Regions from separate parts of the Homo sapiens genome. Here region 2 is linked to region 1. Evidence: fine-mapped expression QTL. Tissue or cell type: whole blood. Region 1 holds a variant in brackets; the other region holds the start of a gene. All regions are shown on one strand. Distances are between the middles of the regions.

Region 1 (2,758 bases):
TGCTGACTCCGGCCCTCCCTGTCACTTCATCACACAGCAAATCTTAAAACTTTGGTTTTTTCAAAGAACATTTAAGTCCATGTTCATTTTCCTGCTTCAGGGAAGATGGTAGCAAAGTTGAAAGCCGAATCCCTTCCTATTTTAGCACTTCCAAGTATCCTGGATGAATATAGGGGCGAGGGGCTACACTGACAATGAGCAGGATGCACTCTAGGTCATTGTGGACAGGCACGGAGCTCTTGAGAGCACTGCTCAAAGGAAAGAGGGAATCTCTATCTGGATGGTTGGCCTGGAAACTAAATAATGACTAATGCCAGGCCAGCCCCGTTACCCTGGGGTGGGTATGGATGGCCCTGGGCTCCCCTCCGTATCCTGGTATCGTGACGAAGGCCATGAGAACCAGCTCTGGTTTACAGACTCGATGCAGGAGCTGGAGGTGGCCAGCACATTACCAGCCTGTCAAGGATGAAAGACCACCTTGGGCATGGAGAGGCCCAGAGGCAAGCATCAGAGCAAGAGAGAGGAGGTGGGAAGTCCATTCAGAGGCAGACGTAGATTCTACGTTCCAGTTACGGCTGATCTATGGACTCTCCTGAGCCCGCCCCCAGAACTGCCGCAACTCTCCAAAGGCTTTTATTCTTTGAAATAGAGTTGCCATTGAATTAAAAGCCTACAGGAGAGACGGGCCTGGTCTGTGGTCTCACTAAAGCCCAATGCCCAATTAGGTCCAGAGAAGAAAGAAGAGTGAGTTCCCTACCTGGATTTAAGAACTCGGACCACTTTGGACTGGTTTGTCCAATCTCTCTTATAATGCTAAATTCCATTGCTGAAGCCTCCAGAAATGATCTCTTCTGCTACATCAAGCCTGGGAGTTTACACAATGATACACTATGTTTTACCTTCAAAGATAATGCTCCTAACATGAGTAGGACAAATTAGAAATCTATTTTTTTAGAAGCTGTAACAGATTTGGGCTTTCTTACTCTCTGGCTGAGGGCACACATTTGTGAGTGAGCAGGTTGATAAAGAAAGCTAACTAGCCAATAATGAGAATGAGCCAGGCTGGCTGTCAGTCTTCAAA[C/T]CAACAGAGCTAGCCAGCCCGGGGTGGAAACCAGGATGGGGAGGGAGACCCATCAGTGGAGAGTCCACTCCTGCACTCTTGAGCAGTGACCCTCAATGAGGGGAGGGGCAGTTTCTGCAAACGTATTTAAAATTCCCATTACTTTTGTTTTCAGCCATGAAAGACAGGAAAATACAATTTTCTGTTCACCAAGGTGGCAAAAAGGTGCTAAATACTGCTAGGAAACAAATGCCACTGATCCCTGTCATAAAGAACAGCAAGTCATCTACAAGAAGGCAGCCTTGCTCAAAGTGGTTAGCACTCGCATGTGTAAAGATTTCCAAGAGTTCTGAAGACAGCCAGCCAGCACTGCTTATCACACACACGGGGACCCTGAACAACTGACTCCATCCCAAGAACATTGTGAGGTTCAAATGACATTATGTGAGTGAAGGTGCTCTGAAAATTTGCCAAGTTCCACAGAAATCCCAGATATCATTAAAAGCGAAGAGCCCTATCGTATATGGTTAGAGAAGAATATTGAGTTTCCTACGTCTTAAAATGAGTAAGAGGATTACCATGTATTGGTGCATCTGCCCACAGTGAGTACATGCTGGGAGAAAGGTGAGTGGTATAAACAGTTCTTTTCTGAGTACCAAATTCACTTTGGGCAGGAGGGAGGGTGGGGCAGAGGCTGACGTTTTCATTTGTGAGCTGGTGTATCTTCGGAATTATTTTTAATTTTAAAACCATGCAAAATGAATAAGCAAAAAGACTAGTGCACTCCAGCCCTAACCATATTATCTTCACAAAAACTGCCTCAACTTTATTTTCTAACTGAAGCTCCCTGACTCATTTCATTCTACTGCAGTTTTAACATCTCTAAAAGTCTCCATCCACTCTCTCCCCCACTTTCCACGCAGCTGTTAATCCATTCTGGGGAGGAGAGAACTTAGCCATCTGCTCACATTCTGACTAAAGTTAATTTGGCACTTCAAATAAAAAAAAAAAAAAACACACAAAACTGACTTTCTAGCCACAAAATAAACTAGTAGCAAATGGTATCTACCAAAGAATGTCCCAGTCATAATCATTGGGAGAAACTGTGACCCGCACAGTAGCTACATTAAGACCAAAAACTTTCCATACTATATTTCTATATAGCAAATATTCAAGCTGTATTAAAACTAATTATTGCAGCTTTCCATTACTATATGGCCACCCCAAAATCCACCCAACTACATTCTATAATTTATTTAATTTAGAGAGGTATCAAATGGAAAACTTCTTTTAATCCAAAATAAGAACTTAATGTATCACACAAAGCATCATCTAGACTGGAAGTGTGTTTTCAATTGGTTCCTCCAAAATTTTCGTGTCAACAAATTACTTGGCAAAGTCAGAAAAAAGGGGTGAGAAGGAAAGCCTGGTAATAAAATTCTAATTTTTTAAGTCTATAAATCTGAAAAAATCTCTAGTCCTGGTTCCATGTACAACAGCAACCTAAGAAGCAGCAGATAGGCAGCCATTGTCATGATTTAGCAACGAGCCACACGACAGTTAAGAAGGGAACATGGAAGACTGTGAGGTTCCGTCTTCGGGGGTTCACACTGTGTACCCGACAATCAACTCTAGGGAAGAGATCATTCAGCCTGGGCAGACTTCCAGCTAAGTTTGTACCCTGTCCTTGCGTAAGTC
Region 2 (2,612 bases), 200 kb after region 1:
TGATGTGGTTATTGTAGAGCAGCAGCACCTCCAGTACTTGCAGGTCACTGAACAGGAACTCATCCAGTGTACGCAGCTGGTTGGAGGAGAGGTCCAGGTAGCGCAGGTTGGGTACCGGGGAAAAGGCCTCAGAGGAGATGAAGTTCAGGTGGTTGTGGCTCAGCAGCAGGGAGTGCAGTTGGGTCAGGCGCGTGGGGGTCCACTCGGCCCGCAGGCGGCTCAGGTTGTTGTGACTGAGGTCCAGTAGTGCTGTGTAACTGGGCAAGGAATGGGGCACATTGGGCAGCTGCTGCTTGGAGCAGCTGAGGATGTTGCTGGCGCACAAGCAGGCGGCAGGACAGCTAACCACGGCTCGGCCAGCTCTGGCCACCTCAAAAAGCAGCAGGGACAAGGACGGCAGCAGGAGCCAGAGGCCTCTCGGGTCACGGTGGGGGTGCATAGTGTCACTGGAGTGGGCGAGGAAGGCCACAAGGAAGATCTGGGAGGAGGTCACCCGGGCATGTTCTGGTGGGGTACGGAAGGGTCACTTGAGAGAAAGAGGATGGGTTTGTGGTCACCAAGGACTCCAGAGGGAAGGACACCCTCTCCCACTTCCCCTCCCACCCTTACCTCCACCCCCTTTGGGCTAGGAGAGAGAGATGCTGGGTAGTTTCCAGGCACTGTGCAGGCAGTGGGCTGTAAATATCGGCCGAAGAGGAGGTGGCCCGAGGGCCTACTGGGCTGGGGTCACAGGGGTGCAGGCTGCAGGTATGCACAGGATGGCAGGGACTGCTGGGAGTCACAGGGATGGCACGGGCAGGGTTTGGAGGTGGGGTCGGTGTGCCTTTTGGGAGGAGCTGAGGGAAGGTCAACAGGGCACCGGGCTGGGTAGGACGCGTCCGGTCGGGGTTGAGGGTCCCCGGGGCCTGTAGGGGCGGGCTCCCCCCGGGGCCTCCGGTCACTGCACCTGCTCGGCGAGGACGTGTCTCAGCCCATGGCCGGTCTGGGAGCTCCGTCGCGGCCTCTCCCGGCGGCGCCTCACCGGCCGGCCTGTCACTGCGCCCACCTTACGCAGGGGCCCGCGCCCGGCACCGTCGCCTCCCGGGGACTTGCGGGGCCCCGCTCCGCTCACCCTGCCACCGCCTCGACCGCTGAGCCCGCCGGAGCCCACCGACCGCGGTCGCTGCCTCCAGGTCCGCAGGCCTGGCGCGGATCGGTGCGGGGAGCCGGAGGCGCAGCGATCCCAGCGGAGGGAGCGGCGTGGGGGCAGCGAGCACCGCGCGCGCGCCCGTCGCCGCCGCCGGAGCCTCGGGGCGCGTGCGCGCGGCGGGGGCGGGGCGCACGTGCGTGTGTTTGTGTCGGAGCCGGCCGGGCGGACGCGCGCGGGGTCGTTCCCTCAACCAGCGAGCTCCGGACGCTGAGCTAAAGACGAAAATTGGCAGGAAGAGCGGCACTGGCCCCTTAGGCTCCGCTATAACTTCCTCCATCCCCCATTCCCCCATCTCCCAGCACCCTTCTCGCTACACAGACCGGCTCTCAGGAAAAGTCTAACTAAAGTGAATTCGCTGCACCTACTCGGGCAAGAGGCGTCACATGTCTTTTAATTTCGCAAATTGAAGAAATCTGGCTCAGCTCCCGCCTGCCAATGTTGGCGGGAAATTCATTAGTCACATTCTGAGGTTCCCCCTCCCTTCTCTCTGTGGCTGTGGGGTCTCAAAAATTGGGGGAGGGGTTCCCCCCACCCCACCCCCGTCTTGATGCTACTAGTTCATGACCCTTGAGGTACCACTGAAGGGCACAGCTCCTTAGCCTGCAAGCCAGCTGCGCAGGAGTGAGGGGAAAGGGGGTGTTTGGTGAGCCCAGGCCCCAGAACACCCCTTTACAGACACCTCATGCACCTCTCCCCACTCCACCTGCTACACACACACACACACACACACACACACACACACACACACACACGGACTGCATACAAGCCAGGGACAATTTCCATTCCTGGAAACTCCGAAACCCTTCCCAGCCCGGAGGAAGTCATTCAGCCCTTAGGTCTGGCCACTTGCCTTCTTCCTAAACCAGTGCCAGCTCCCCACTCCCCTTATGGAGCAATTGCAACATAGTTTCTCTGTTACCTAATCCTCAAGATGAAGGCCAGTGGTGGAGGTGGAGGGGTTTCTTCTTTAGGGTGGCCCCTGAAACAACAAGAAGCTGTTACTAGTGTATGTTGTTTGGGTTTGGGGGTGAGGAAAGAGAGAGATGCAGGAAGAGCCTAGACCTTATCATTCAAGATGTTAGCTGTTCTTGAGATGGTGGACCATAAGAAATTACCTTTTTATTTGTTCCAGTCTCTTATAACAGCAAGATCAAGACTGAAATTAATGTCTCAGTAGATTAGCTTGCTAAGAGTTTTAAAAAGAATTTATATCTGTCACATGTTTTACCATGAATTTTAGTGAATATATTATCTCTTCAAGGAGTATTAGCGTGTTAATCTTATGCATAGTGTGAAAAGGTCTTTCTGCAAGGTGCAGTGGCTCACACCTGTAATCCCAGCACTTTGGGAGGCTGCGGCAGGAGGATTGCTTGAACCCAGGAGTTCGAGAGCAGCCTGGGCAACATGGTGAGACTCTGTCTCT

What was found. PIP is the estimated chance that this variant, and not a neighbour inherited with it, causes the effect.
Region 2: AMIGO1 starts here. The variant in region 1 is fine-mapped to the expression of AMIGO1 in whole blood (TOPMed, PIP above 0.99).

What each region holds. Positions count from the first base shown.
Region 1 is chr1:109,310,454-109,313,211 of GRCh38, forward strand. SORT1 (sortilin 1) reads right to left here. Exons shown (of 20, transcript NM_002959.7): 20 at 1-2,758. Among named protein-coding and RNA genes, the nearest start is that of MYBPHL, 4.8 kb to the left of the region's middle. The variant C/T (reference allele first, on the strand shown) is at 1,082.
Region 2 is chr1:109,508,474-109,511,085 of GRCh38, forward strand. AMIGO1 (adhesion molecule with Ig like domain 1) reads right to left here and starts at 1,254. Exons shown (of 2, transcript NM_020703.4): 1 at 947-1,254; 2 at 1-526. The coding sequence starts at 439. It overlaps LOC105378893 (a long non-coding RNA gene), which reads right to left. Exons shown (of 3, transcript XR_001738179.2): 3 at 2,129-2,168. RefSeq lists silencers at 858-917, 928-1,077, 1,138-1,257.